Linked DNA regions of Homo sapiens: region 1 is linked to region 2. Evidence: fine-mapped expression QTL. A gene starts in region 2. The other region holds a variant in brackets. All regions are shown on one strand. Distances are from middle to middle. Region 1 overlaps AXIN1 (axin 1). Region 2 holds the start of PGAP6 (post-GPI attachment to proteins 6).

Region 1 (14,928 bases), 47 kb before region 2:
TTGACTGAAAACTATGCAATAATGTACATGAAGAACACTTTGAAAATTATAATGCACCAAAGAACTCACTAATGAGACTCACTAGTTAGTGCTCAGCACAATCAGTTATGAAACTGACGACCTCTTTCCTCTGCTCAGCGTGAACACCGTGCATTGAATTCAGTTTTGTGCTGCTCACTGCCACATTTCTTCAATGTCACAAAAGTCTCTTCAGAGCCTGGAACTGCACAAATGGCTTCACATCACATTTTTAGGTTCACAAGGATCTGATGAGAAACACTTTATGTAATGAAGAGTGGTAACATTTAAAAAGTAGAACAAAAAAATGTTTTATGCTTTCCTCCCCAGGAGACACTAGCACCCTCACTCCAGCCTTCACCCCTGGAGCAGAAGCCCCCAGGAATTTACTGGTTCCAAAGAACAGCCAATGACCTTTCACAAGCTCAGATTATCTATGCTGCAACAAACATTTGGAAGTGGCAATTCCCAGCAAATTGCAGGCAATTTAGAGTCATTTGCCAAGATGCAATCTGCCCTATTGCTCCAGGGTCTTTACAAAGGCCAGCCAGACTGCAGCCCTTGCAGACTGCAGGGTGGCAAGTCTCACGCCAGCCTCAGAGCCTCCTCAGCAGAAGTCTGAATACATCACTTACCCAGAACCAGGTTGCCGGCTTACAGTCATGGTCCCTGAATCCTGCATAAAACTCACCTGAAGGAGACCAGCTCTCAGTGCTGAAGCTACAAGACGAAAATAACAACTTCTGAAAGCCACGTCTTATTAAAAATTAAAACACTGGACACTTATCAATCTAGTTAAGGTAAAAATTCTGTACATGAAAAAAAAAATTCTGTACATGAAGCACTCTGGTTTGTTCCCTTGAAGTAATTTAGAAACTGCAAGTTCCAAGCTGGGTCTACCCTCTTTATGACATTCTCAGGGATCCTGGAGCCCTTCCCTGGGCTGACAGCTCATGGACGTCCCTAACACTCCAAAGCAGCTGTGTCCAGTTTCCTTGACTCTGAGTGTGCAGCAGGAAGAAGCCTCTGTCTGGAAAGAAACACTCTGAGGCAGAAATAGAAAATCTTTATTTTTATGAGATATTTAATTTTTTTCTGCTTCTTTTAAAAGGAGTTTCACTTTACCCAAATGAAAGAAACGCAACCAACTCATGAGAATCTATCAAACACTCCTATCAGCGTATAGAATGCACAGCAGTAAGCGGACGCATAACAAAGCCAAAACAAAAACTGCCTGGACTGCTTTTATTTGCAAACTTTTTTGTTCACCATGGAAATGCTTTATCTTTGTGGTATCTCCAACATAACTCCACACTGCACCACGAAGCTATAAATTCCAAAGCTAATGGAATTTCCAAGCAAAGGTGCAAGCCTGACACTGCATGAGGGGCCCTCACGCCAGTGCCTCTACTTACGTCACCCTCAGATCTCCACACAGGCGCACCTCGGCCACTAGTCTGACCCCCAGCCTCGCTGAGCCCCTGCTCAAAAGCGCTGTTTCCAGGCCTGTGGGTTCCAGAGACCACGGTGACTAAGGGCCCGACCCTGACTACAGCAGATGGGAAGTTACTTAATCTCCCAGGGCCTCAGTTTCCACATGGATGGCATGACACTCCCACACCTCGTTAGGGGCTCGCGGATGGCCTGACGCCTGACACAGGCAGTGCGAGAGTCCACAGGTCGGCAGCCTTCAGCAGCGACAATGGTCCCTGACAGTCCTCTGTTCACAGCTCCTGCAGATGGTGGTGGACCAGCAACAACTGAGGGCCCCACGGTCCAAGGACAGTTTAGAGAACTCGCAGCAGCAACATCACAATCACAAGTAAAGCATATTTAACTTTTAGAAACAGGATATAAAACCTGCAGCCAGGCTGGGCGCGGTGGCTCACGCCTGTAATCCCAGCACTTTGGGAGGCCAAGGCGGGCGGATCACGAGATCAGGAGATGGAGACCATCCTGGCTAACACAGTGAAACCCCATCTCTACTAAAAATACAAAAAATTAGCTGGGCGTGGTGGCGGGCGCCTGTAGTCCCAGCTCTAGGGAGGCTGAGGCAGGAGAATGGCGTGAACCCGGGAGGTGGAGGTTGCAGTGAGCTGAGACCGTGCCACTGCACTCCAGGCTGGGCGAAAGAGCGAGACTCCTTCTCAAAAAAAAAAAGAAAACAAAAAAAAAATTACACTTAACATCTTAACATCTCCAGAAAGATTTTGATCTAAACAATGTTGATCTAAACCAAAAAAAAAAAAAAAAAGTATAATTTTTTGAGTGTATATTCAGAAAGCAAGGGCAGGAAAAAAATGTATTGAAAAGATATGAAAACACAACAAAAAGAAATGCAAAATATATGAAAGATTTAAAATTTAAAGGATCACTCTAAATGGTCCAAAATCTAAATAAGATCTCAAATAAGTTCTAAAATGAGAAATGGTAAAGATGGAGAGAAGGAATTATCAAAGAAATAACATTTCTGGCCAGATGCAATCAATGGCTCACACCTGCAATTTCAACTCTCTGAGAGGCCAAAGTAGGAGGAGTGCTCAAGGCCTGGAGCTTGAGACCAGCCTGGGCAACACTGGGAGACCTTGTCTCTACAAAAAACTGTAAAAAAATATTAGCGAGGTGGGCCGGGTGCAATTGCTCACGCCTGTAATCCCAGCACTTTGGAGGCCGAGGCAGGCGGATCACCTGAGGTCGGGAGTTTGAGACCAGCCTGACCAACATGGAGAAACCCCATCTCTACTAAAAATACAAAATTAGCTGGGTGTGGTGGCGCATGCCTGTAATCCCAGCTACTCAGGAGGCTGAGGCAGGAGAATTGCTTGAACCCGGGAGGCAGCGGATGCAGTGAGCCGAGATCGCACCACTGCACCCCAGCCCGGGCAACAAGAGCGAAATTCCATCTCGAAAAAAAAAAATTAGTGGGGTGTGCTGGTGCCTATAGTCCCAGCTACTCTGGAGGCTGAGGCAGGAGGATCGCTCAAGCCTTTTTTTCCAGACTCGCCTCAGAAAAAAAAAAAAAAGAAAAGAAACAAATACCATTTAAACTCCAGAATTAAAGGACAAGTTTCTTCAGCACGATGAAAGAAAAAAGCCCCCAGCAAAACACAGTATTATGAAATAACACTGTTGATAAAGAAAACATCCAAAAAATGTCTGGAGGGAAGAAAAAAAGCACCATCCACACCGTATGAAGAGAATGGAGCCAGGTCTTTCCAGGGCAGCTCAGAAAAACAGAAGGTGATGGTGCAAATTCCTCTAAATTTATGGGGGGGGTGCCACCCAACCTAAATTCTAAACCCAACTCATCTCTCCTTCAAGTTCTTTTGGCATGAGCGCATAACACCAGTACCACAGCACAACAGTAACACAGCACGAGGTACCACAGCATGCCAATAACACAGCACCCAGTACCACAGCACACCCAGTACCATGGCACCCAATACCACAGCACACCAGTAACACAGCACCAGGTACCATAGCATGCCCATAACACAGCACCCAGTACCATACCATGCCAATAACACAGCACCCAGTACCACAGCACAGCAATAACACAGCATGCAGTACCATGGCATCCAATAACACAGCACGCAGTACCACAGCACCCAGTACCATAGCATGCCCATAACACAGCACCCAGTACCAAGGCACACCACTAACACAGCATCCAGTACCACGGCATGCCAATAACACAGCACCCAGTACCACGGCATGCCAATAACACAGCACCCAGTACCATGGCACACCAATAACAGCACCCAGTACCATGGCATGCCAATAACACAGCACCCAGTACCATGGCACGCTAATTACACAGCACCCAGTACCACAGTACACCAATAACACAGCACCCAGTACCACAGCATGCCAATAACCCAGCACCCAGTACCATGGCACGCTAATTACACAGCACCCAGTACCACAACACACCAATAACACAGCACCCAGTACCACAGCATGCCAATAACCCAGCACCCAGTACCATGGCATGCTAATTACACAGCACCCAATACCACGGCATGCCAATAATGCAGCACCCAGTACCACGGCAAGCTAATTACACAGCACCCAGTACCACAACACACCAATAACACAGCACCCAGTACCACAGCATGCCAATAACACAGCACCCAGTACCATGGCACACTAATTACACAGCACCCAGTACCATGGCACACTGATAACACAGCACCCAGTAGCACAGCACGCCAATAATGCAGCACCCAGTACCATGGCATGCTAATTACACAGCACCCAATACCACAGCACACCAATAACATAGCACCCAGTACCACAGCATGCCAATAACACAGCACCTAGTACCACAACACACTAATATCACAGCACCCAGTGCCA[C/T]AGCATGCCAATAACACAGCACCCAGCACCATGGCATGCCAAAAGCAAACCATCCAGTACCATGACACGCTAATTACACAGCACCCAGTACCATGGCACACTAATTACACACCACTCACTAGAGAGAAACACTCTGAGGCAGAAATAGAAAATCTTTATTTTTATGAGATATTTAATTTTTTTCTGCTTCTTTTAAAAGGAGTTTCACTTTACCCAAATGAACCAAACGCAACCAACTCATGAGAATCTACAAAACACTCCCATTGGCGTATAGAATGCACAGCAGTAAGTGGACACATAACAAAGCCAAAATAAAAACGGCCTGGACTGCTTTTATTTGTAAACTTTTTTGTTCACCATGGAAATGCTTTATCTTTGTGGTATCTCCAACATAACTCCACACTGCACCACGAAGCTATAAATTCCAAAGCTAATGGAATTTCCAAGCAAAGGTGCAAGCCTGACACTGCATGAGGGGCCCTCACGCCAGTGCCTCTACTTACGTCACCCTCAGATCTCCACACAGGCACACCTCGGCCACTAGTCTGTACCAGGACACACTAATAACACAGCACACAGTACCACAGCATGCCAATAATGCAGCACCCAGTATCATGGCACGCTAATTACACAGCACCCAGTACCACGGCACACTAATTACACAGCACCCAGTACCACAGCACACCAATAACATAGCACTCAGTACCACAGCACGCCAATAACACAGCACCCAGTACCACGGCACACCAATAACATAGCACCCAGTACCACTGCATGCCAATAACACAGCACCCAGTACCATGGCACCCAATAACACAACACCCAGTACCATGGCACCCAATAACAGCACCCAGTACCACTGCGCCCAGTTACACAGCATGCCAGTACCACACACACCAGCTCCAAGGCACCCAGTACCACAGGATGCCTAAAGAGTAACTGTTTCAACCAGAGTGGGAATATGGAAGACTTCAGGACACATGTCTTCCAGAGAAAAAATACTTTATCCAAGAGGTTTTACAGTGAGGAGAAGAATATTCACAAGCACTCTATTGAGCTGAAGAATATGGGAAGATTTAAGTTGGAAAGTAAAATATTTAATCAAATGAAAAAAACGGCCATTATTAACTCAAAAACAAACACACAAAATTGTACAGGAAAGAAAATGGCCAGGCGTGGTGGCTCACGCCTATAATCCTAGCACTTTGGGAGGCCAAGGCAGGGGGATCACTTGAGGTCAGGAGTTCGAGACCAGCCTGGCCAACATGGTAAAACCTGGTCTCTGCTAAAAATACAAAAATTAGCTGGGTGTGGTGATGCACGCCTGTAATCCCAGCTACTCGGGAGGCCGAGGCAGAAGAATTTCTTGAACCCAGGAGGCGGAGGTTGCAGTAAGCCAAGATGGTGCCATTGCACTCCAGCCTGGGATACAAGAGCAAAACTCCGTCTCAAAAAAGAAAATGATTGACCCACTTGGCTCAGAAGTGAAAGCACCATGCCCTGGTGCATGAACACCTCAGGGTAGGGGTGAGACAGGAGAGCAGCAGAGCTCTCAAAGAGCCAGTGGACACAAGATAGCAGTGAGCACGTTACTCAGAAAAGGCACTAAGGACCGAACCGTGTCGCCCAATTAATATGTGTCAGCCCTGACCATCACGTGGCTGTGCTTGAAGTAAGGAAGTGTTATTGTTAGATGAGAACGCAAACGTGGGGCCCTGACCCAAGAGGGCTGGTTCCCTAAAAGAACAGACACCAGCTGGGCGCGGTGCCTCACACCTGTAATCCCAGCACTTTGGGAGGCCAATGCGGGCAGATCACGAGGTCAGTCCAAGACCAGTCTGGCCAATATGGTGGAACCTCATCTCTACTAAAAATACAAAAATTAGCCAGGTGTGGTGGCGCATGTCTGTAATCCCAGCTACTCAGGAAGCTGAGGCAGGAGAATCATTTGAACCCAGGAGGCGGAGGTTGCAGTGAGCTGAGGTTGCACCACTGCACTCCAGTCTGGGCAACAGAGCAAGACTCCGCCTCAAAAAAAAAAAAAAAAAACAAAACATAAATACAAGAACTTAACCAGGTGTGGGCCAGGCACAGTGGCTCACGCCTGTAATCCCAGCACTTTGGAAGGCCGAGGCTGGTGGATCACAACGTCAGGAGATGGAGACCATGATGGCTAACACGGTGAAACCCCGTCTCTACTAAAAACACAAAAAAATTAGCCGGGCATGGTGGCAGGCGCCTGTAATCCCAGATACTGGGGAGGCTGAGGGAGGAGGAGCTCTTGAGCCTGGGAGGGAGAGGTTGCAGTGAGCTGAGATCACACCACTGCACTCCAGCCTGGGTGACAGAGCAAGACCCCGTCTCAAAAAAAAAAAAAAAAAAAAAAAAAAAAGACACATTTACGTGTATCCTTTTTAAAGAAAAAATGTGCTTTTGAATAGCTGCATATTTTAAAGCTTTTATTCTTTTAATAATATACTTTCTAATTATAAACATGCTGTTATAGGAATTTGGAAAATACAGAAAAACAAAGAAAAAAATTAAAAGCCCACATATCCAACTGTATGAATGCCACTGGGCATTCAAGTCATCCTATTTGCTGGAATATTACAAGCAGCACTCCTTAGGGTTATTTTAAATGTTTGTTTAGGAGCAGACACCAATCCCATAGACTACAGGTGAGCTAGTAAAGATCCAGAGTGGGTCAAAACCAAAAAAAAAAAAAAAAAAAAGCACTGGAGCAACCTCAAAGGAGGCAGGAGGGTGAGTGCCATGAGCAGGGCACAGGACCAAGCAGCCCACTGCAGCTCACAGTGAGGACAGCGCCTGCCAGGACACCCGGACGCCCAGCTACCCGGCCACCTGGCCACCTAGCCAGCTGAGCCAAGAGCTGAGCCCATTTGCCAGCAGATGCTTCAACGGATCACAAAGGAAGCCCGTGGGCCGAGGCTGCAATCCACACAAGCCAGCGTTCAACTCCGGACAGGGCCCAGGGTCCTTGCTGGAGGAGAAGGGGCATGGAATCTGGGCCCTATGGGCACTCAGCCGGGCGTGCGGCCTCTGGGGGCCCCCTGGACGCCACAGCAGTATGGCAGAGCTGTGTGTGTTTTCACAGAGCCCTGTGACCAGTCTCCATCTCTCAGGGAGTGGAGAGACCGAACACCTTCTGGAGCTAATGGGTTCTGAGAGAACCCTGAGTGGTTATTCTCACAGATGTGACACGGGGAAAAACTGAGGTGAAGCTGCTTCCCTCCACACGCACAAGTAGGCAGCGGAGGGGCCCAAGAAAGAGCCAACAGGCGGCCCTCTCTCCCTGACAGCCACCATAGCCCAGCCTGGCCCCCACCTCCGATAACTGCAGGGTACGCTGCTACAAATGACGTCTGCGTTTGACAAGGATGAGCAGAACCGGAGCGTGTGCGTCAATTCAAATCTGTGACACTGGCGCAAAATGTGAGAATGGGCTGGGGTGCCAGGCGGCCAGTCACGGCTAGGGCACAGTTCCAAGAAGGGCCACAGGGGCCCGCAGGGACACTTACCCCAAGCCCTCCAGAAACAGCTGCTGCAGGTCAGCACCAGCACCAGGGCCAGGCACACAGTCTCATCGGCACGTCTGCCACTGGCTGTCTGCAAAGTGCTTCCCTTTCACAACCCACCCACACAGCTCAGGACTGAGGTCCGCCCAGGCAAAGGGGCCTCTCGGTTCCAGAATCCTTTGGCCTGACAGGCAACTACAGATACTTTCGTGGACTCTGCTGAAACCTGTCTGAGACTATGGAGCTTTACGTGGCTAAGGAAGAGAAAAAATATGTTTGGAGTCCTTGCCCACTGACAGGTGCATAAAAATACAAGATGGACTGGGCACAGTGGCTCACGCCTATAATTCCAGCACTTTGGGAGGCCAAGGTGGGCGGACCACTTAAGGTCAAGATTTCGAGACCAGCCTGGCCAACATGGCGAAACCTTGTCTCTACTAAAAATACATAAAGTAGCCAGGAGTGGGGGCATGCACCTGTAATCCCAGCTACTCGGGAGGCTGAGACTAGAGAATCACTTGAACCTGAGAGGCAGAGGTTGCAGTGAGCTGAGATCGCGCCATTGCACTCCAGCCTGGGTGACAAGAGCGAAACTCCATCTTGGGGAAAAAAAAAAAAAGTGGGATGCAAGCTGGTGCTGTGGGGACAGAGTCCAGCAGAGCACCAGCAGAGTCCAGCAGAGTCTGGGATTACAGGCATGAGCCACCGTGCCTGGCCAGGAATCATTTTTAAAGTTTTCCTTGGACATCCACAAACAAAAAAAATTTCCCTTTGGGCAGGGTGTGGTGGTTCACACCTGCAACCCCTGCACTTTGGGAGGCCGAGACGGGCAGATCACTTGAGGTCAGGAGTTCAAAACCAGCCAGCCTGGTCTCAAAAAAAAAAAAAAAAAAAAAAAAAGGCCGGGCGTGGTGGCTCACACCTGTAATCCCAGCACTTTGGGAGGCTGAGGTAGGCGGATCACAAGGTCAGGAGATCGAGACCATCCTGGCTAACAAGGTGAAACCCCGTCTCTACTAAAAATACAAAAAAAAAAAAAATTAGCCGGGCGTGGTGACACGCGCCTGTAGTCCCAGCTGCTGAGGAGGCTGAGGCAGGAGAAGTGCTTGAACCCAGGAGGTGGAGCTTGCAGTGAGCCAAGATTGTGCCACTGCACTCCAGCCTTGGCGATAGAGCGAGACTCCATCTCAAAAAAAAAAAAAAAAAAAAAATTAGCCAGGCATGGCGGCAGGTGCCTATAATCCCAGCTACTGGGGAGGTTGGGGCAGGAGAACTGCTTCAACCTGGGAGGCGGAGGCTGCAGTAAGCCGAGATGGTGCCACTGCACTCCAACCTGTGTGACAGAGCAAGACTGTCTAAAAAAAAAAAAAAATTCTCTTCAGATCTGCTCAAACAGGGGAAGCAAATACCCCAAAGGAGACTAGAAACCCCCCACACCCAGGCAAGGGGAGCCCACGCAAGGGGCAGTATGGCTCACAAGCACCTCTGCCCCCTCTGCACCACAGCAGAGGTCCCCTTAACAAGACAAGCCTGGGGGCGACCCCACCCTGGGCCACACCCTTTGCACAGGAAGCAGAGTTCACCCTTGCAACACAGCCCCTCTGCAGCCGGGCACCTTCAACAGCACCACCGCCTGAGGTCCAACGGACATGGAAACCCAAAACCACTCCTCCACAGACAACTCTGTACACATTTTGGGCCCTTTCTTTTTCTTCTTCTTCTTCTTCTTTTTTTTTTTAACCATTTCTTCTCTTAACCTTTTAGGCCATTACCAGAAACACAGTCAATAAACTAATGAGCAGGTCCGACGGTTCCTCACGCACCCCTGCGGGAACCTGAACGGCAAGGGCTGGCTGCCCACCTCGAAAGGACCCACCGGTCCTCTGAGCAGCTCCAGGAACCAGCAGCCCAAGACAAGCCACCATGTTGCTCCTGCTGTGGACATGTCTGTTGTCCACTCTCTGGCCACAGCCACATTGACCAGCCCTATCCACAAGTGCATCACTGGACTGGCCCGGGAAGACACACGAAAATATCCAGGAAGACCCTGTCCCCAGTCATCAAGGAAGGTCAGGGCAGTCAACAGAAGGGGCCAGCGGCGAGGAGACTGCGGGCTTGACCAAGCGGACCTGGCAGGGGCATGCAAGGCCAGCCCTGAAGGCCACCTGGTGGGCCAAGCCACCCTGAAGGGAAGCAGAGCCTGAGCCCGCCAGCCAGGGAGTGCAGGCCCTGGGCCTCCCGCCCAACACTCAGTCAACAGCAGAACCTGCCTGCTGATCCACACCGCTGAAATGACGAGGTGAACCAGCCAGCTCTGTTCAAAGTTCCACTGACAATGGGAACAAAGACCCGAGGGTGCAGAAAGTGTTCCCACAGAGGCAGAGCGGGGGAGCCAGGGAGGAACCCCATGAAACCTTGGCCCAGGAGCTCAAAATGACAGTGGGTGAGTGGGACAAACACAGAAAAGGGCCAGGAATGGAGCTCTTTCCTAGGCTGAGACAAAGACCTAAGCAGAACACTTCACTTTCCTCAAATCAAGTATGTGAAACCACCACGCGGCTCACACACGGACCAACAAGGACCCGCACTCAGGCGTCCCACAGGGGAACTGGATGCCTGTGGCCGTGCTGGACCGCAGCAGCCCCACCGCAGGGGATGAGCGACTGTGGCAGAGATGCAGGCAAAGTAGCCTCCAGGACAGAGGGGTCAGCACCCGAGGGCTGGCCCTCCTGGCACGTTCCTCCACGCAAATTCCACCCCGGTGAGAGGTGACAGCGTGCTGGCAGTCCTCACAGCCCTCGCTCGCTCTCAGCGCCTCCTCTGCCTGGGCTCTCACTTTGGTGGCACTTGAGGAGCCCTTCAGCCCACCACTGCACTGTGGGAGCCCCTTTCTGGGCTGGCCAAGGCCGGAGCCGGCTCCCTCAGCTTGCGGGGAGGTGTGGAGGGAGAGGCGCGAGCGGGAACCGCGGCTGCATGCGCTTGCAGGCCAGCTGGAGTCCCGGGTGGGCGTGGGCTTGGTGGGCCCGGCACTCAGAGCAGCCGGCCAGCCCTGCCGGCCGCGGGCAATGAGGGGCTTAGCACCCGGGCCAGCGGCTGCGGAGGGTGTGCTGGGTCCCCCGGCAGTGCCGGCCCACCGGAGCTGCGCTCAATTTCTCGCTGGGTCTTAACTGCCTTCCTGCAGGGCAGGGCTCGGGAGCTGCAGCCCGCCATGCCTAAGCCCCCCACCCCCTCCGTGGGCTCCTGTGCGGACCGAGTCTCCCCGACGAGCGCCCGGTCCCATTGACCACCCAAGGGCTGAGGAGTGCGGGCGCACGGCACGGGACTGGCAGGCAGCTCCACCTGCAACCCCGGTGCGGGATCCACTGGGTGAAGCCAGCTGGGCTCCTGATTCTGGTGGGGACGTGGAGAACCTTTATGTCTAGCTCAGGGACTGTAAATACACCAATCGGCACTCTGTATCTAGCACAAGGTTTGTAAACACACCAATCAGCACTCTGTGTCTAGCTCAGGGTTTGTGAATGCACCAATCGACACTCTGTATCTAGCTACTCTGGTGGGGACTTGGAGAACCTTTGTGTGGACACTCTGTATCTAGCTAATCTGGTGAGGATGTGGAGAAGCTTTGTGTCTAGCTCAGGGATTGTAAACGCACCAATCAGCGCCCTGTCAAAACAGACCACTGGACTCTACCAATCAGCAGGATGTGGGTGGGGCCAGATAAGAGAATAAAAGCTGGCTGCGGGAGCCAGCAGTGGTAACTCGCTCGGGTCCCCTTCCATAGTGTGGAAGCTTTGTTCTTTCTCTCTTTCCAGTAAGTCTTGCTGCTGCTCACTCTTTGGGTCCACACTGCCTTTATGAGCTGTAACACTCACCGCGAAGATCTGCAGCTTCACTCCTGAAGCCAGTGAGACCACGAACCCACCAGAAGGAAGAAACTCCGAACACCTCCGAACGTCAGAAGGAACAAACTCCGGACAGGCCGCCTTTAGGAACTGTAACACTCACGGCAAGGGTCCGCGGCTTCATTCTTGAAGTCAGTGAGACCAAGAACCCACCAATTCCGGACACACCGGGACGACTAACCGGCTCTCCACAGGATATGCATCCCCTAACACGTGAGGCCTAAGCTCCAGGCCCTGCTGTGGTAGCAATGCTCACCAGCCGCCTGTTCAGTACCCACTCTCCTTTTCCCTTTGCATTACCCGCAGCCTTCCTTTGGAGGACTGCCCCCAGCTCCCCACTGGGGAGCAGCCGTCTGTCTGGGTGGAGAACCCACTTTCCTTCAGGAGTGACCCTGCTGCACAGCCCCCAGCGCACGCACCGTGACTGTGCTGAGACAGACGGGACACAGCGGCACACGTGCCCTCCTCAGAGCAACAGCGGGCCCATCCGTCAGAGCTGCGGGAAGCATCTGTAAACAAGGGAGCCCAGAGCCCAAGGTCACTGCAGCAGCCACCTCCAACACAAAGCCCACGAAGTCGCCCACCAGGCAGGCAAAGTCAGAATGGCACAAAGCAAAGGTGCCAGGCCCTAAGGCACACCTGAGGCTCTGCCTCAACAGTGCCCTTCAGGGTTGGGCTCAGGTGGGTGGGTTTCCACGACTTCCAACCTAGTGCACCCTCACCTACACCTGGCAGGACAAAGAGAATGGTCTAAATGTGAGGAACGCAGCCTGGACTTCATGCCCTGTCTGTGCTGACAAGCAACCATTCCAACATCAGAGATCTTCAAGCCACAAGGCTGCACCACAGGCCACCTCCCACAGAGAGGATTCAACCGCAGACACGACTCCCAAGCCCCAGGGTCCTCTGCCACCAGCAGCCCCAGAGCAGTCAAGTTAGGACCCAAACTGTGTAGACAGAGCTACACAAAATTAGACAGGAGAAGCCAATGTATCCCACTAATTTCATAGCAAAGGTTCCTTATTACAAATACAGCAAACCAAGGACAGACAGCAAAGCTACTGCTCGCAGCCAAGAACTGAAGAGTGGCTGGGAGGGAGGCACTGGGGTTCCAACAGTGGAAATCAGAACGGAGCTCATTTTCCTCCTGCAGCCCAGCCCTCAACTTCAGTCCCATCTTAAAAATAACCAGCCGGGGCCGGGCGCAGTGGCTCACACCTGGAATCCCAGCACTTTGGGAGGCTGAGGCGGGCAGATCTCTTGAGGAAAGGAGTTCGAGACCAGACTGGCCAACGTGGTAAAACCCCATCTCTACTAAAAATACAGAAAATTAGCTGGGCATGGTAGCTCACACTTGTAATCCCAGCTACTCGGGAGGCTGAGGCAGGAGACTCACTTGAACCCAGGAGGCAGAGGTTGCAGTGAGCTGAGATTGCACTACTGCACTCCAGCCTGGGCGACAGAGCGAGACTCCATCTCAAACAAAAAAACAAGCAAAAAAAATAACCAGCCAGGTGCAGTGGCTCCCACCCGTAATCCCAGCACTTTGGGAGGCTGAGATCACTGGAGTCCAGGAGCTCGAGACCATCCTGGCCAACGTGGCGAAACGCTGTCTCTACCACAAATACAAAAATTAGCCAGGCATGGTAGCACACACCTGTAATCCCAGCTACTCGGGAGGCAGGAGAATCACTTAAACCCAGGAGGCAGAAGTTGCAGTGAGCCGAGATAGCGAGATAGTGCTACTGCACTCCAGCCTGTGTGACAGAGCGAGACTCCATTTCAAAAAAAAAAAAAAGAAAGAAAGAAAGAAACTCTCAGTTTATACCAGGCTTACTCAACAGGATAACTTTGCGGCATATTGTGTCCTAAAATGCTTGCTAAATAAATACCACTTGGCTAAAGACAATGAACAAAAGGGAAAAAAGGCCGGGCGTGGTGGCCCACGTCTGTAATCCCCGCACTTTGGGAGACTGAGGCAGGCGATCACGAGGTCAGGAGATCGAGACCATCCTGGCTAACATGGTGAAACCCAGTCTCTACTAAAAATACAAAAAATTGGCCGGCATGGTGGCGGGCGCCTGTAGTCCCAGCTACTTGGGAGGCTGGGGCAGGAGAACGGCGTGAACCTGGGAGGCGGAGCTTGCAGTGAGCCGAGATGGCGCCACCGCACTCCAGCCTGGGCGATAGAGCAAGACTCCATCTCAAAAAAAAAAAAAAAATTAACCAATTAACCTACACAATCCTTTTTTGTTTTTTTTTTGTTTTTTTTCTGAGACAGAGTTTCACTCTTGTCCTCTTGTCGCCCAGGCTGGAGTGCAATGGCACAACCAAGGCTCACTGCAACCTCTGCCTCCCAGGTTCAAGCGATTCTCCTGCTTCAGCCTCCCGAGGAGCTGGGATTACAGGCATGCGCCAACTCGCCTATCTAATTTTTGTATTTTTAGTAGAAATGAGGATTCACCACGTTGGCCAGGATGGTCTCGAACTCCCGACCTCAGGTGATTCGCCCGCCTCGGCCTCCCAAAGTGCTGGGATTACAGGTGTGAGTCACTGCGCCCAGTCGACAGTCCATCTTAAATCGTATCACTTAGACTACAAGTTTAACCTTAGACATGTTTAATCCTGTGTTGATGAGCGAGTAGCCAATTTCTGTGTCACAGTAAGCTTGAAGAACTAATGCGAGTTTTTAATAACTCCTCAGGAGAGTCCCAGCACATGGGGCTGTGCTTTCGGAGTCTTGATTAGGTCAGCAGGGGTCACATGAATTCCAGGCTTTCAAAGTTACACAGGCCGGAGCCTCCGGTCACCAGCTCTAGGGAAAGAGTGGGAAATGCATGCGCTCTGCTCACAAGCACAGTAGATGCCAGCCCGAAAGCCAAATAAACCTCCAGGAACCACGCAGGGATCACAGGGAAGGAAGAACGAAGAAACAGGTTCCAAGGCTGAGCACCACTCTGCTCCCTCCCAGGCAACACACGCACCCCACAGGCCCTGCCAGGATCGCCTCAGGGTCCAGGCTGCTGTGGACTACACAACAGCACCAACAGATTTTGTTGGCAGGAAAAAAGGCCCAATCCTGGAATGCCCACTATAGCCACAGGAAGTTTTCA
Region 2 (14,928 bases):
GGATGAGGGGGGCAGGTGGGCGGCCACGAACCAGTCCCCGGGGGCCGGGTGGGAAACGTTGACGGAGGCATTGCTTCTCGGTGTGGTGCTCAGCGGCACCCCGACCTGGAAGGAGGGCTGTACCGCGGTGTCGTCCGGGAAGCTGGTGCCCAGCGGGTTGATGACCGGAGGGGCGCCGGAACGGAAGTGCCTGGAGACGGGAGAGCAGCACCGGGTTCAGGCACAGGGCTTGGCCAGGCGCGGGAGGGTGGGCAGGCGGGCGGGCAGCCACCTACACGGTGATCTCCGCGTCGGTGCAGGCAGCGCCGCTCTCCCGGGAGACCTGCAGGAGCCAGCGTAGAAGCACAGCATCTGGGGGCACGCGGAAGCGGAAGAGCCTGGCACTGCCGTACCAGCTGTAGAAGGACAGCCTCTGCGGGGCCTGCGAGAAGTGCTCGGACACCAGCCCCACCTCTGTGAGGAGAAGGAGGTGTCAGCCAGGCCGGGACCCTCCTCCAGGGCCGCAGATGGGGAGGACGAGTCCCCCAGATGGAAAGGGCTGGAAGCCCCCGGGGACCCACCTGGAGATCTTGGCACACCAACTCTGACCTTGGCAAAGGTCACCGACACCCTCTGGCCCCTCAGCCAGATCCTCTGCTGTCCCTCCCCAGATGGCCTACATCCCACCCTCCTGGCATCTGGGTCTTTTCACAGCTGCCGCCTCACTGCAGCAGCTTCCAAACAAGCCGCAGGGTACCTCAGCAGCCATCGCCACCCTGACTGCCATCGCCACCCGCACTGCCATCCCCACCCGCACTGCCATCGCCACCCTGACTGCCATCGCCACCCTGACTGCCATCGCCACCCGCACTGCCATCCCCACCCGCACTGCCATCCCCACCCACACTGCCATCGCCACCCGCACTGCCATCGCCACCCGCACTGCCATCGCCACCCGCACTGCCATCGCCACTCTGACTGCCATCCCCACCCGCACTGCCATCGCCACCCTGACTGCCATCGCCACCCGCACTGCCATCGCCACCCACACTGCCATCCCCACCCGCACTGCCATCGCCACCCACACTGCCATCGCCACCCGCACTGCCATCGCCACTCTGACTGCCATCCCCACCCGCACTGCCACCCGGACCCCCTCCAACCTTAGAAGACTACACTCCCCATGGCCAACCCAGGTCGAAGCCGAAGGACCCAGCAGGTGTCAGGAAGGAGCCCCCGCCCCTCATCACAGATGCCCTGGATATCAAGGCACGGTCCTCCCACCTCCTCTCAGCCTCCCACATCTCCATCCCTGGATGGGTTGGCTGCCTGCTTGGGCTATGATGACTTTGGACACGGCGAGACCGGAGCCCAAATTCCCCTTACCCAGAGGGAGATACTGCATGTGGGAGGGACCCAGGCCAGAAGCCTGGCCAGTCATGAGAACAAGGGGACAGCTGCCCTCTGCGTTCCAAGCGGGCAAGGCTCCTAACTGTCCTCAGGGAACGCACCCACGCCTGGTGCGGGGATGGAGAAGGGCCCGTGGGAGACATCCTGCTCATGGCCCCAGGCGAGGACTCAGGCTCTCACCCCCAGCCCCCCGTGCCAGCTCCAGCCTCGTGCCCTTGCGACCTTGGGCATCCTTCCCTCCCTGGGTCCCAGCCTTCTCCTGGGTAGGTCAGGGCGGAGGGCACATCCCTTTGGGGGCCCCTCCCTCCGAGGTTAATTAACGACAAAGGCTTCAGAAGGAAAAGCACAGTGGACACAGCAGGGGGCGGGACCCTCCCCTCTGCTGCAGCTCCCCCTCCCCACACACTCAGGAGCGCTGCCTAGGTCTCACTGGAGAGTGGCTGGCTCAGGCCCAGGCCCCTCCTGAGGAGGGAGACAGGTGAGCAGCAGGCTCTCCTGCCAGCCTCGTGACCCTCCCATAGAGGCACCAGAAGAAACGATACACCTGCCAATAGCAGCCTGTCGGCAAATCCAGGCCAAGCTCCAGGGGAACCTGGCGTGGCGACTGGGCAGGGGCTGGCCAGGCTCCACCCACGACGCACTCCAGGCTTTCCAGGTGTCTGCTGGCCACCAGGTCCCACCCACCAGGCTGTGGCCTGATAATGTGGGCAGAGAAAGCTCAAGTGCTGGGAGCTGAAGCAGGACAGCCCCCCAGGACCACGGTGTCCCGGAGAAAGCCGGCCTCTGCGGGGGCAGGCAGGGGAGGCCACCTGCAGCACACACAGCCCCTGGGCTGCTGGGGCAAAGCCCTCAGCCCCTCTGGCCCTGGAGCGCCAGCCTGAGGGCACCTAGAACCCAGCTGGTGGCTGTGAAGTTTCAGCAGGTACACAGAGATAAGAGATCTGTTCAAGGTTGTCCTAACACCCAGTCCCCGACTCCCAGGGCTCACAGCCCCTCCAGGCCTCTCCCAGGGCTCTGCAGCCCAAGCTCCCTGCCCAAGTTGCCCACACATACCAGGCTGTTAGGGGTGCTCTGAGCCGAGGTGACCACAGGGTGAGGAGGGCCAGCTACACAGCCCCCTGCCTGCCCCACAGCCCCTCCACGGACACAGGGCTGGGTGGGGAAGGTGGTAATGCAAGTCCCTGGCCCTGTCCTGGGAACCTGAGTGAAGACCCCAGACCCACGTCCTCCAAACCGGGACAGGCACCCATGGGAGACCCTGACCACCCACAACGCCACAGAGCACTTACTCCTCGGCAGGCTGGGAGGAGTGAGGGGCTGAGCCAGCACACCAGGCCTCTCCACTGTCCACACACAGGGGTTCCATCTCCCAGGAACCCCTCACCAGGCCTGAGTTCTGGGACAGGAGAATTTCCTTTGCCAGTTTCCAACGGAGTAAGGTTTTGGTATTTCTGAGGGTCTCACTCTGTCACCCAGGCTAGAGTGCAGTGCCATGAACACGGCTCACCGCAGCCTCAGCTTCCTATGTAACTGGAACCGCAGGCTTACATTACCACACCCAGGTTATTTTTTTTTCTTTCTGTCTTTCTTTTTTTTTTTTGAGATGGAGTCTCGCTCTGTTGTCCAGGCTGGAGTGCAATGGAGCGACTTCGGCTCACCGCAACCTCTGCCTCCCGGGTTCAAGCGATTCTCCTGCCTCAGCCTCCCGAGTGGCTGGGATTACAGGCATGCGCCACCACTGCCGGCTAATTTTGTATTCTTAGTAGAGAAGGGGGTTTCTCCATGTTGGTCAGGCTGGTCTCGAACTCCTGACCTCAGGTGATCCACCCGCCTCAGCCTCCCAAAGTGCGGGATTGCAGGCGTGAGCTTCGCGCCTGGCCATGGAGCAATTTAATCCGGGGCACGGTCCTCGGGGAAAACTGCCTTTCATCTCTACCTGTGCCAAGCTCAGAAAGCAGGAGGCACAGCCCCCGAAAGAAACAGGAGCTCAAAGGAGCATTATTTCAGGGGCAGGGGAGGGGAGGGGCTGGGGGCCGGGAAGTCGGGGAACAGCACCGCATCAGCTGCCGGGCACCTGGGCACCCGCGTGGCTGGGGACGTGTGGGAACTTCCAGCCGGCCAGAAAGGACACGGCCCCTCCAGAGTCCCAGGCCACAGAGGCCGGGGCAAGTCCTCACCATCTCAGGGTGGCCAAGGCCTGACGGTCTCCACACCCACGTCCCTACCCCGTGGAAGGGCTACGCCTTCTCCCTGGTCCAGCCGCCTCCTTGGACCTCAGTCAGGGACGGGGACCCTCAGGGAACAGAAATGCAAAGGGAGCCCGGCGAGTTTCCCAACAAGAGGGGAGAGGGGCGCCCTTTCCTCAGCCCCTCTTCCGCCAGCTGGGAGTCCCTCCTCCCAGAAGCCGGGCCGGCGGCAGGAAGCGGCCGTACCAGGGCTGGGGGTCACTGCGGAAGGGCTGGAGCCATGACGCCCACGGGCCCCCGCTACAGGGTCTAACAACTTTCTCCCGGCTCTGCCCCTCTCTCAGGCCGGACCCGGCCGGTGAGCTCACGGCCCAGCCACTCCTCCCAGCTGGAGTCCCGGGCAGAGTCCCCTGGGCCCCTCCACTTCCCCGCGCCGGGCGCGCCGGACCTGGGCGCTCTGGGAGGAGGAGGGAGGGGAGGGGGCGCTCCAGGGGCCGATGTGGCCCAACCCCGATCGGGGGACCGAGGAGGAAGCGCGGGGTCCCGTCCGCCTCGACCCCTAGGACACGAAGCGCCCCAAAGGGCCACTGTGCACCCCCAACCCGCGGCGGGGACCCCCAACCCCGCGCCGGCGCCAGATGAGCGCACAGGTGCGCCCGGGGTGTCACAATCCCGCCCCGCCCGCAGCCCCGGCCCCACGCCCCCGATGGCGCCCGCGCCTCCCGCTCACCGCTCTTCCCGCTGTAGCCGGCGGAGGCAGGCGGGGGCCGGGCAAGCAGCAGCAGCAGCAGCGGCCCCGCCACCACCGCGGCCACCGCCTCGCCCCCGGTCCCGGTGCCAGCCCGGCCCATGGCTCCGCGCTCGGCCCGGCGCTACCCGGCCCGCGTCCCGCGCCGCCGGCCCCCGCCGCCGCCCGGGCAGCCTCTGCCGCCTCCGCCTCTGCCGCCTCCGCCTCTGCCCCCGGCGCCCATGGCCCGGCCGGTCCCCGCCGCCGTCGCCCCGGGCACTTCCGCCCGCAGGCCCCGCCCCGCAGGCCGAGCCGGGAAGGCGAGGGCGGGGTCGGGGGGCGGGACCGGGGGGGGCGCGGACGCCGGGGGGAGGGGTCACGTGGGGCGCCGGTAGGGGGGAGGGGTCACGTGGGGCGCGCGGGGGACGGACCGGGGCGCGCGCGGTCCGGGGGGACGCTGGAGGGAGGGCGCGGGATGGAGGGATCGCGGGGGTCCCAGGACGGAGAGGTCGCGCCGGGCGCGCTCGGAACACGCAGGAAATTCTCCCCGAGGCGTGGGCTCCGCGGGGCTTCCCCGCCGGTTCGCTGAGTCCCAGCTCCGCTCGGCCGGGACCTCCGTGGCAGGCTCGGGGAGCCCGCGGGGGGCAGAGGCGCCGACCTCCGCCTGGGACCGAGAGGAACCCGCGCCCTGCCCTGCCCCGCCCGGCGCGCGTGGGCCTGAGTCAGGCGCCTCAGCACGGGGACCCCCGGGCCGGCCTTCACGCCGCAGAGCCGCTGCAGGTGCGTGTCAGATCCACGCTTTTATGCACAGACGAGAAGGCTGCTTGTGTTTAGGGACTGTAGTACCCGATCGGGGTGGCGGTTCACACGGGTGCGTGGCATCAACTCCCGGCGCTTTGCACCTGGATGGATTCCCACCATGTAAGATTTGAGCCGAAAAAAGGAAGCGATAAAGCCTAGAAAACTCGGGGAAGCTTTTTCCGTCTTAGGGCCAAGTCGGCTTTTCCAAGCGTGGCACAGAGTCCAGAAGTTCCGCCGCGTCGTGGGTGGGAGGGGGGTGGGGGCGTCTGCAAAGCCAAACTGCATAAGCGAAGTCCAAAAGACGAGCCCCCGACTGGGAGGTGGGGGACACAGCTTGCAGCTCACACCGCAGAGCTCACCTTAATAAGACTAGTAACAGTGCAGTAATAAACAGCTCTAAATCAATCACAGAAACGCTCCCCTAGAAAATACTGAAGGACAGCTGCCAGGGATACGCTGATCCTCCTCCCTCAGCGCAGAAATGCAAATTAAAAACTACTCCAGCTACTCCGGAGGCTGAGGCCAGAGAATCGCCTGAACCCGGGAAGCGGAGGTTGCAGTGAGCCGAGATCGCGCCACCGCACTCCAGCCTGGGCGACAGAGCGAGACTCCGTCTCAAAAAACAAAAACACAAAAACAAAAACAAAAACAAAAAACAAAACACTAAAGTGTCCTTCCCAGGATGTGAGGGTAAAAAGTTTAAAAAAAAAAAAAATTAAAGGAAAACCCCATTAAAGTGACTTCTTTTTCCTTTCACCTAACACATTGGCAAATAAAAACTGTACTAACAGGTGAGACTGTGGCCCACAGACACTGCTTGCAGCAGGCAGAGGATGTGGGAGCCTCGTGGGAACCCCCCCGACTTGTCCACTGAAGTAACAGCAGCAATGACCTTCCCTCGGGAATTCCACCTCTGCGTTTTTCCCTCCAGGTACGTTCACGGAAGTGGCACACTGCATGCGTCCAGTGAGTCAATGTGGCACCGCCTACATGCGTGTCACTGGCCGGTGGGACATTCAAATCATTCATACGGGGTCTAAACGAGACAGAGCGTGGCCGAGACAGGAAAGACAGGAAGCGCTGTGCTGCTTGGAAATGGTCCACCAGGTGCAGCAGTAGCTGCAAGAAAGGAACAGGAAGAACGGTGTGTTCAAAGCTCTACCATTTGTGTAGAAAAGGGAGAAAAACACGTTTCCTTTGTGTGTGTCAAAGGCATCGAATGTCTGGAATGATCCAGCACCGGCTACACTGGTTGACCTTGGAGGAGGAGAGGCGGGGTGGGGATGGGGATGGCCGCAGGGACCATACCTGTTTGTACCTTTTGAACGCCGCAGCGGGTGGTGAGGGTTTACGGAGCGGGGGAGGGGAAGCTGACTCCACGAGCCCAGACCCCTGAAGGCCAGAGCAGCGGAGGTGGAGGGTGTTGGCCGGGGAGGAAGGAAGCCCCGGCTGAGCCTTAAAGAGACCCTTTGTTTCCCGGGAATCCCAGCTGGGCCGTCCTCAGCCCCGACTGAGGGGAAAGGGGGGCTCCCAGGGGTTCTCATTTTAAAGGCACGGAGGTCAGATTGCAGATTTTGCTGAGCCGTGATTTGAGTGTGCTGTGCCGGACTGCACCCAGCAACCAAGGTCAGCACCAGCACCCAGGACTGCTCCAGACCCAGTCCCTGCTCCAGGCTGGGCCCAAGCCCCCCTCCTCCCACTGCCCTCCCCTGAGTGAGTCACCTTAGTCTGAGGTTCCTGTGCCCCAAGTCACCCACCGGAGAGGGAGAGAAGCGGCAGAGCCCCCACTTCCAGTGCTCCAGCTGAGGGCTGGTGAACTTGAAGGTGGGTAAGAATCCCCAGACGGAAGTCCAGAGACGTCTGCTAAGTCACAGAGTGTTGGCAATGGAGAGACTCTTCTGTAACAGGAAACACAGCTCAGTCAGGCTACTGGTCAGGGAAACAAAACAAGCCACTTTGTCAAAAAACAGCCACGCAGCCCTTGCCACAACAGATGCTCACACTTTGCTGGCAGGCATGTGAACCCCCTCAACCTTCTGAAAATTATTGTGCCAACATTAAAATGTAATGGAGAGGGCCGGGCGCGGTGTCTCACGCCTGTAATCCCAGTACTTTGGGAGGCTGAGGCCGGCGGATCACGAGGTCAGGAGATCGAGACCATCCTGGGCTAACATGGTGAAACCCCTTCTCTACTAAAAATATAAAAAGTTAGCCGGGCGTGGTGGCAGGTGCCTGTAGTCCCAGCTACTCCAGAGGCTGAGGCAGGAGAATGGCGTGAACCCAGGAGGTGGAGGTTGCAGTGAGCCAAGATTGCGCCACTGCACTCCAGCCTGGGCGACAGAGCGAGACTCCATCTCAAAAAAAAAAAAAAAGTAACGGAGAGGCCGTACGCGGTGGCTAATGCCTATAATCCCAGCACTTTGGGAGGCTAAGGTGGGCGGGTCACCTGAGGTCAGGAGTTTAAGATCAGCCTGGCCAACATGGCGAATTATTTTTGTCTCTACTAAAAATATAAAAATTAGCCAGGCATGGTGACATGAGCCTGTAATCCCAGCTACTCAGGAGGCTGAGGCAGGAGAATCACTTGAACCCGGGAGGTGGAGCTTGCAGTGAGCAGGGATCAGGCCACTGCACTCCAGCCTGGGCAACCAGAGCAAGTCTCCATCTCAAAAAAAAAAAAAATGTAATGGAGAACACTAAGGCCTAGAGACAGACACACAAGGATGTTTGCAGCAGAACTGCTTGTATTTGGAAAAACCTGGGCGCTCCATGAGGGCAATGGGTAAATAAATCATGCTATAATATACTCTGATTTTTTTTTTTTTTTTTTTTTTGAGACGGAGCCTCACTGTCGCCCAGGCTGGAGTGCAGTGATGCGATCTCGGCTCACGCAAGCTCCACCTCCCGGGTTCACGCCATTCTCCTGCCTCAGCCTCCCGAGTTGCTGGGACTACAGGCGCCCGCTACCATTCCTGGCTAATTTTTTTTGTTTTTAGTAGAGATGGGATTTCACCCTGTTAGCCAGGATGGTCTCGATCTCCTGACCTCATGATCCGCCCGCCTCGGCCTCCCAAAATGCTGGGATTACAGGCATGAGCCACAGCGCCCGGCCTACTCTGATTTTTTTTTTTTTTTTTTTTTTTTGAGATGGAATCTCGCTCTGTCGCCCAGGCTGGAGTGCAGTGGCGCGATCCTGGCTCACTGCAAGCTCCGCCTCCCAGGTTCACGCCATTCTCCTGCCTCAGCCTCCCGAGTAGCTGGGACTACAGGCGCCTGCCAACACACCCGGCTAATTTTTTGTATTTTTAGTAGAGACGGGGTTTCACCATGTTAGCCAGGATGGTCTCGATTTCCTGACCTCGTGATCTGCCCATCTCAGCCTCTCAAAGTGCTGGGATTACAGGCGTGAGCCACCGCGCCCGGCCTACTCTGAATATTTATGCAACTTTTAGATGGGTCTATAAATGTGTCTTCAGAAGGAATGTCAGTAAAGTGAAAAATCCAGTTGCTGGATAACAGGGACGCATCGTATTTCCAAACAAACAGGAAGACCCTCAAGCCCCCTCCCCAGGTCCCCCTCTAGTGAGCCTGGGTGAGGGTAGACTCCAGCTGCCTGCAGCCTGGCCGGAGGGGAGGGTTGCTGGGTGTGGGAGCAGCTTTCCACAGTCGGTGTGCTCTTCGCCCAGCAGCAATAAGCATTATTATAGTTGTCTTGGATAAAAATATCAAAAGTTAAATAAAAGCAAAAAAAAAAAGCCGTAATCCAATTTTCTCCAAATAACCACCCTGTGCACCTCCTGCAAATGCTTCCTGTGTGCAAGACTGTGTGAGGACCCCTCTCTCTCTGTGGACACTCTCCCAGGCTCTGCAGGTTGAAAGGAGTTTCCCTCTGTCTGTTCATGGCCACCTGGTAGACATGGGAGACCCTGTCTTCCCACTCCGCCCCGAGTTTCCTGAGGGCAGGAGATGGGTCTCTCTCACTCTGTGGTCAGGCAGGAGGAGTGCAGACCGTAACCCTGTCTTTCTGACCCAGTGCCCTAACCTGTCAGCATGAACCACACCACAGGTGCCCAGACATCAGAGTTTCACAGACAGAAATAGTTTCCCCAGAGTTTTGGGGCTTTTTTAGGCTCAACTATCATGCATTATTATTCTTTCATAAAAAAAGGGTCATTTTCCCAGCCTGGGCAACATGGTGAAACCCAGTCTCTACAAAAAAAAAAAAACCAAAAAAAAAAAAAAAAAAAATTGGCCTTTTCACAAGATGGCGCTGAAAGCAAAGAAGGAAGCTCCTGCCTCTCCTGAAGCCGAAGCCAAAGCGAAGGCTTTAAAGGCCAAGAAGGCAGCGTTGAAAGGTGTCCACAGCCACATAAAAAAGAAGACCCGCACGTCACTCACCTTCCAGCGGCCCAAGACACTGCGACGCCGGAGGCGGCCTGAATATCCTTGGAAGAGCACCCCCAGGAGAAACAAGCTTGGCCACTATGCTGTCATCAAGTTTCCGCTGACCACGGAGTCGGCCGTGAAGAGGACAGAAGAAAACAACACGCTTTTGTTCACTGTGGATGTTAAAGCCAACAAGCACCAGATCAAACAGGCTGTGAAGAAGCTCTATGACGGTGATGTGGCCGAGGTCACCACCCTGATTCCGCCTGATGGAGAGAAGAAGGCATGTGTTCGACTGGCTCCTGATTACGATGCGTTGGATGTTGCCAACAAAATTGGGATCATCTAAACTGAGTCCAGCTGCCTAATTCTAAATATATATATATATATATCTTGTCACCATAAAAAAAAAAATTGTAGCCAAGCATGGTGGCATGTGTGTCTGTAGTCCCAGCTACTCCACAGCCTGAGGCAGGAAGATCCCTTGAGCCCAGGAGGTCAAGGCTGCAGTGAGCCAAGATCGCACCACTGCACTCCAGCCTGGGTGACTGAGCGAGACCCCATCTCAAAAATAAATAAATTAACTAATTAAATCATTCAAGGGCTGGGGACGGTGGCTCACACCTGTAATCCCAACACTTTGGGAGGCAGAGGCGGGTGGATCACAAGGTCAGGAGTTCAAGACCAGCCTGGCTAATATGGTGAAAACTGTCTCTACTAAAAATACAAAAAACTGGCACGCACCTGTAGTCCCAGCTACTTGGGAGGCTGAGGCAGGAGAATCGCTTGAACCCGAGAGGTGGAGGTTGCAGTGAGCCAAGATCACATCACTGCACTCCAGCCTGGGTGACAGAGCAAGACTCCGTCTAAAAAAAAAAAAAAAAAAAAAAAGGAAAGGTCATTTCCCAATCCAAAAAAGTAGGAAGTATGTACCCTTTTTGAAGGGGATCTGCTCCTCCACACCTGTGGGTATTTCTCGTCAGGTGGGACAAGAGACTGAGAAAAGAAATAAGACACAGAGACAAAGTATAGAGAAGGAAAGGGGGGCCCAGGGGACCGGCGCACTCAGCCTGAGAGGACCTGCAGGGGCGCTGGTCTCTGAGTTCCCTCAGTATTTATTGATCATTATTTTTACTATCTTAGCGAGGGGAGTGTAGCAGGCCAACAGATGGAGAGAAGGTCAGCAGGGAAACATGTGAGCAAAGGAATCTGTATCATGAGTGAGTTCTAGGAAAGGTACTGTGCCGGGATGTGCACATAGGCCAGATTTATGTTTCACTTTACATAAACATTTCAGTGTAGCGAAGAGTAACAGAGCAGTATTGCTGCCAGCATATCTCGCCACCAGCCACAGGGCGGTTTTCTCCTATCTCAGAATAGAACGAATGGTCGGCTTTACACCGAGACATTCCATTCCCAGGGACAAGCAGGAGACAGAAGCCTTCCTCTTATCTCAGCTGCAAAGAGGCCTCTCTCCTTCACTGCTCCTCCTTAGCACAGACCTTTTTACGGGTGTGGAGCTGGGGGATGGTAAGGTCTTTCCCTCCCCACGAGGCCATATCTCAGGCTGTCTCAGTGCGGGGAAACCTTGGACAACTCCCAGGCTTTCTTGGGCAGAGGTCCCTGCGGCTTTCCGCAGTGCACTGTGTCCCTGATTAATCGAGAACGGAGAATGGCGATGACTTTTACCAAGCACACTGCCTGCAAACAAATTGTTCACAAGGCACATCCTGCACAGCCCTGAACCTATTAAACCTTGATTCAACACAGCACATGTTTCTGTGAGCACAGGTTTCTGTTAAAATTACAGGTTAACAGCATCTCAAAGCAGAAACAATGTTTCTTAGTACAGATCAAAATGGAGTTTTCTACATAGACACAGTAACAATCTCATCTCTCTTCTTTTCCCCACACTTTTTTTTTTCTTTTGAGACGAAGTCTCACTCTTGTCCCCCAGGTTGGAGTGCAATGGCGCGATCTCAGCTCACTGCAACCTCCGCCTCCCAGGTTCAAGCGATTCTCCTGCCTCAGCCTCCTGAGTAGCCGGGATTACAGGTGGACACCATCATGCCCCGCTAATTTTTGTATTTTTTAGTAGAGATGGGGTTTCATCATGTTGGCCAGGATGGTCTTGATCTCCTGACCTCAGGTGATCCGCCCGCCTCGGCCTCCCAAAGTGCTGGGAATGACAGTTCAGTTTTTTGTTGTTTTACATTCAGTCCAGCTTTTTGTTGTTGTTTTACGTTCAGCGGATGGCAGTAGACGGGTTTTTCTTTTTCCTTTTTTTTTTTTTTTATTGAGACAGGGTCTTGCTGTGTCGCCCAGGCTGGAGTGTAGTGGGAACATGGTGGCTCCCTGCAGCAATGGCCTCCTGGGATCAAAGGATCCCCCTGCCTCAGTCTCCCAGGTGATTACAGGCCAGCACCAGCACGCCCAGCAGTGGTTCTTATTTATCCCCATTTTGTCTGAGCAAATGAATGCCTGTCCTGGGTGTGGGTGCGAGTGAGCTGGAAGATGAAGGGCATGGGCAGTGACCGCACAGCGCTCAGCCTGCAGGGAGCCTGGGGTGAGTCCAGCAGCACTGGAGCGCGGAACCACAGCAGATGTCCTTGTCCCTTCCAAGGGGTGGGAACAAAGGTGACAGGGACAGAGATGGCTGCCGGGGTAGGAGGCCCAAGAGTTGCTCTCTGCTGAGAAGGCTCCCCTTGGTGTCCCTCAGAAGTGTACCTGGGCGGGCCGATGGGACTGGGACTGAGGCTGTGCTCCTCCTACAAGGAGGGGCCCACTCTTCCTGGATCTCCCTGCAGTGACCTCAGCAGAGGTGAAAGAGGTCTAGCCGGGCACAGTGGCTCACGCCTGTAATCCCAGCACTTTGGGAGGCTGAGGCAGGCGGATCACCTGAGGTCAGGAGATCGAGACCATGGTGAAACCCCGTCGCTACTTAAAATACAAAAAAAATTAGCAAGGCGCAGTGGTGGGCACCTGTAGTCCCAGCTACTCGGGAGGCTGAGGCAGGAGAATGGCGTGAACCGGGGAGGTGGAGCTTGCAGTGAGCTGAGATCCCGCCACTGCACTCCAGCCTGGGCGACAGAGTGAGACTCCGTCTCAAAAAAAAAAAAAAGAAAAGAAAAAGAAAGAGGTCTAGCCTGTGTACACGTGGAAATCCAAGAGGACAGGGAAGACAAACTGAGACAGAAAAAAAATATGTGAAGAAATACCCCAAATTCTAAAATTCGGTGAAAGGCATTCATTTACAGATTCAAGCAGCTTAGTGAAGCTTAACAAGAATCAATGCAAAGAAAACCATAGCCAATTACATCATAGTCAAACTGCTGGAAAACGAACTTATAGAGAAAATATTGAAAGCAGACAGAGAAAGATAACACATTATAGTCCAGGGAACAATTGAATGGCATAACTTCCCATTAGAAACAATGGGGTCCAGGGCCGAGGGCTGTGGCCACGCCTGTAATCCCAGCACTGTGGGAGGCCAAGATGGGAGGATCAACAACAGCTTCATGGTTTCTAACGGGAGTTCAGGCGCGCACCACTACACCCACCTAATTTTTAAAATTTTTTTGGGCCGGGCGCGGTGGCTCTCGCCTGTAATCCCAGCACTTTGGGAGGCCAAGGCAGGCAGATCACGAGGTCAGGAGATCGAGACCATCCTGGCTAACACGGTGAAACCCCATCTCTACTAAAAATAGAAAAAATTAGCCGGGCATGGTGGCGGGCGCCTGTAGTCCCAGCTACTCCAGAGACTGAGGCAGGAGAATGGTGTGAACCTGGGAGGCGGAGCTTGCAATGAGGCGAGATTGCGCCACTGCACTCCAGCCTGGGCGACAGAGCGAGACTCCGTCTCAAAAAAAGAAATTTTTTTTGTAGAGACAGGGTTTTGCCATGTTGCCCAAACTGGTCTCCAACTCCTGGCCTCAAGGGATCCACCTGCCTCGGCCTCCCAAAGTGCTGGGATTACAGGCGTGAGCCACCGCGCTCAGCCAGAATAAACATTTTTTTCAAGCGCACACAATTTGTTTTCCAATACAGATCACATGCTGGGCCATAAACCAAGTCTCAATTAATTTAAAATAGTTTAAGTGGTAGAGAATATGTCCTCTTTCATTAATTAATTTATTTATTTATTTATTTTGAGACGGAGTTTTGCCCTTGTTGCCCAGGCTGGAGTGCAATGGCTCAATCTTGGCTTGCTGCAACCTCCGCCTCCCGGGTTCAAATGATTCTCCTGCCTCTGCCTCCCGAGTAGCTGGGATTACAGGTGCCTGCCACCATGCCCAGCTAAGTTTTGTATTTTTAGTAGAGACGGGGTTTCACTGGTTGGCCGGGCTGATCTCGAACTCCTGACCTCATGACCCGCCCACCTTGGCCTCCCAAAGGGAATATGTTCTCTGACCACAGTGGAATTAAGTTAGAAACCTGTAACAATAAGATATCAGGCTGGGCACGGTGGCTCACGCCTGTCATCCCAGCACTGTGGGAGGCTGAGGCAGGCGGATTACGAGGTCAGGAGATTGAGACCATCCTGGCTAACACGGTGAAACCCCGTCTCTACTAAAAATACAAAAAATTAGCCGGATGTGGTGGCGGGCGCCGATAGTCCCCGCTACTGGGGAGGCTGAGGCAGGAGAATCATTTGAACCTAGGAGGCAGAGCTCGCAATAAGCCAAGATCATGCCATTGCACTCCAGCCTGGGCGACAGAGCGAGACTCCGTCCAAATAAATAAATAAATAAATAAATATTTAAAAAAATAAAACAGGTGAGAGACCTCCATGTAGGGCAATGCCCTCCCTACATGGGTGTAACAGTCGTAGGGCTGGGACAGAATTCAGCTGTCCTGATCCCCCCGCTGTCCCACCCTGCAGGTATCTTTTTGAGCACCTTCTACAAGGACCATCCAGCACATCCATAGGAATGTTCCAGAAATCCACGGCCGTGCTCAGCCCTGATTCCTCACTCCACCTCATCCTCAGTCAGGCTCTGGGGCCCTCTGAGTGGTGCCACTCCAAGAGTGAAACCAGATAGGCAGTCCATGCTTTGGATGGCAGTGAGACCCAGACGCAGTTCCAGCGCTGGCCTCTGAGCGGCAGTACAGCCCCATGGACCACCAGAGCCCCTGAAGCCCAGCTCTGGTTGGAGGTGATGCCACTCTGCACCTCCCTGGCTGCTGTTTGTATTAGTCATCTATGCTGCATAACAAATACCCCACAACTTCATGATGTAAGCAGCACACGTTCATTATCTTCCAGATTCTGTGGACAGGAGGCTGGGTGGGGCTTAGCAGGGAGCCTCTGAGTCAGAGGCTCTCACAGGCTGTGGTCAAGGTGTCAGCCACGCTGAGGTTACCCCAAGGCTTGACTAAGGGGGGATGTACTTGTTTTTTTTTCCAGACCGGGTCTCGCCCTGTTGCCCAGCCTGGAGT

What was found. PIP is the estimated chance that this variant, and not a neighbour inherited with it, causes the effect.
Region 1: its variant is fine-mapped to the expression of PGAP6 in thyroid (GTEx, PIP 0.99).

The regions. Positions count from the first base shown.
Region 1 is chr16:330,409-345,336 of GRCh38, forward strand. The region is part of intron 2 of AXIN1 (axin 1); the gene reads right to left. Among named protein-coding and RNA genes, the nearest start is that of AXIN1, 15 kb to the right of the region's middle. RefSeq lists enhancers at 5,821-6,115, 9,050-9,774, 11,057-11,608. The variant C/T (reference allele first, on the strand shown) is at 4,378.
Region 2 is chr16:377,396-392,323 of GRCh38, forward strand. PGAP6 (post-GPI attachment to proteins 6) reads right to left here and starts at 4,583. Exons shown (of 13, transcript NM_021259.3): 1 at 4,306-4,583; 2 at 276-453; 3 at 1-190. The coding sequence starts at 4,426. LOC100134368 (a long non-coding RNA gene) reads left to right here and starts at 4,846. Exons shown (of 3, transcript NR_024453.2): 1 at 4,846-5,082; 2 at 5,895-6,034; 3 at 14,372-14,928. It also overlaps the pseudogene RPL23AP5. RefSeq lists an enhancer at 3,676-4,575 and silencers at 4,010-4,129, 4,260-4,409, 4,450-4,679, 4,700-5,049, 13,089-13,266.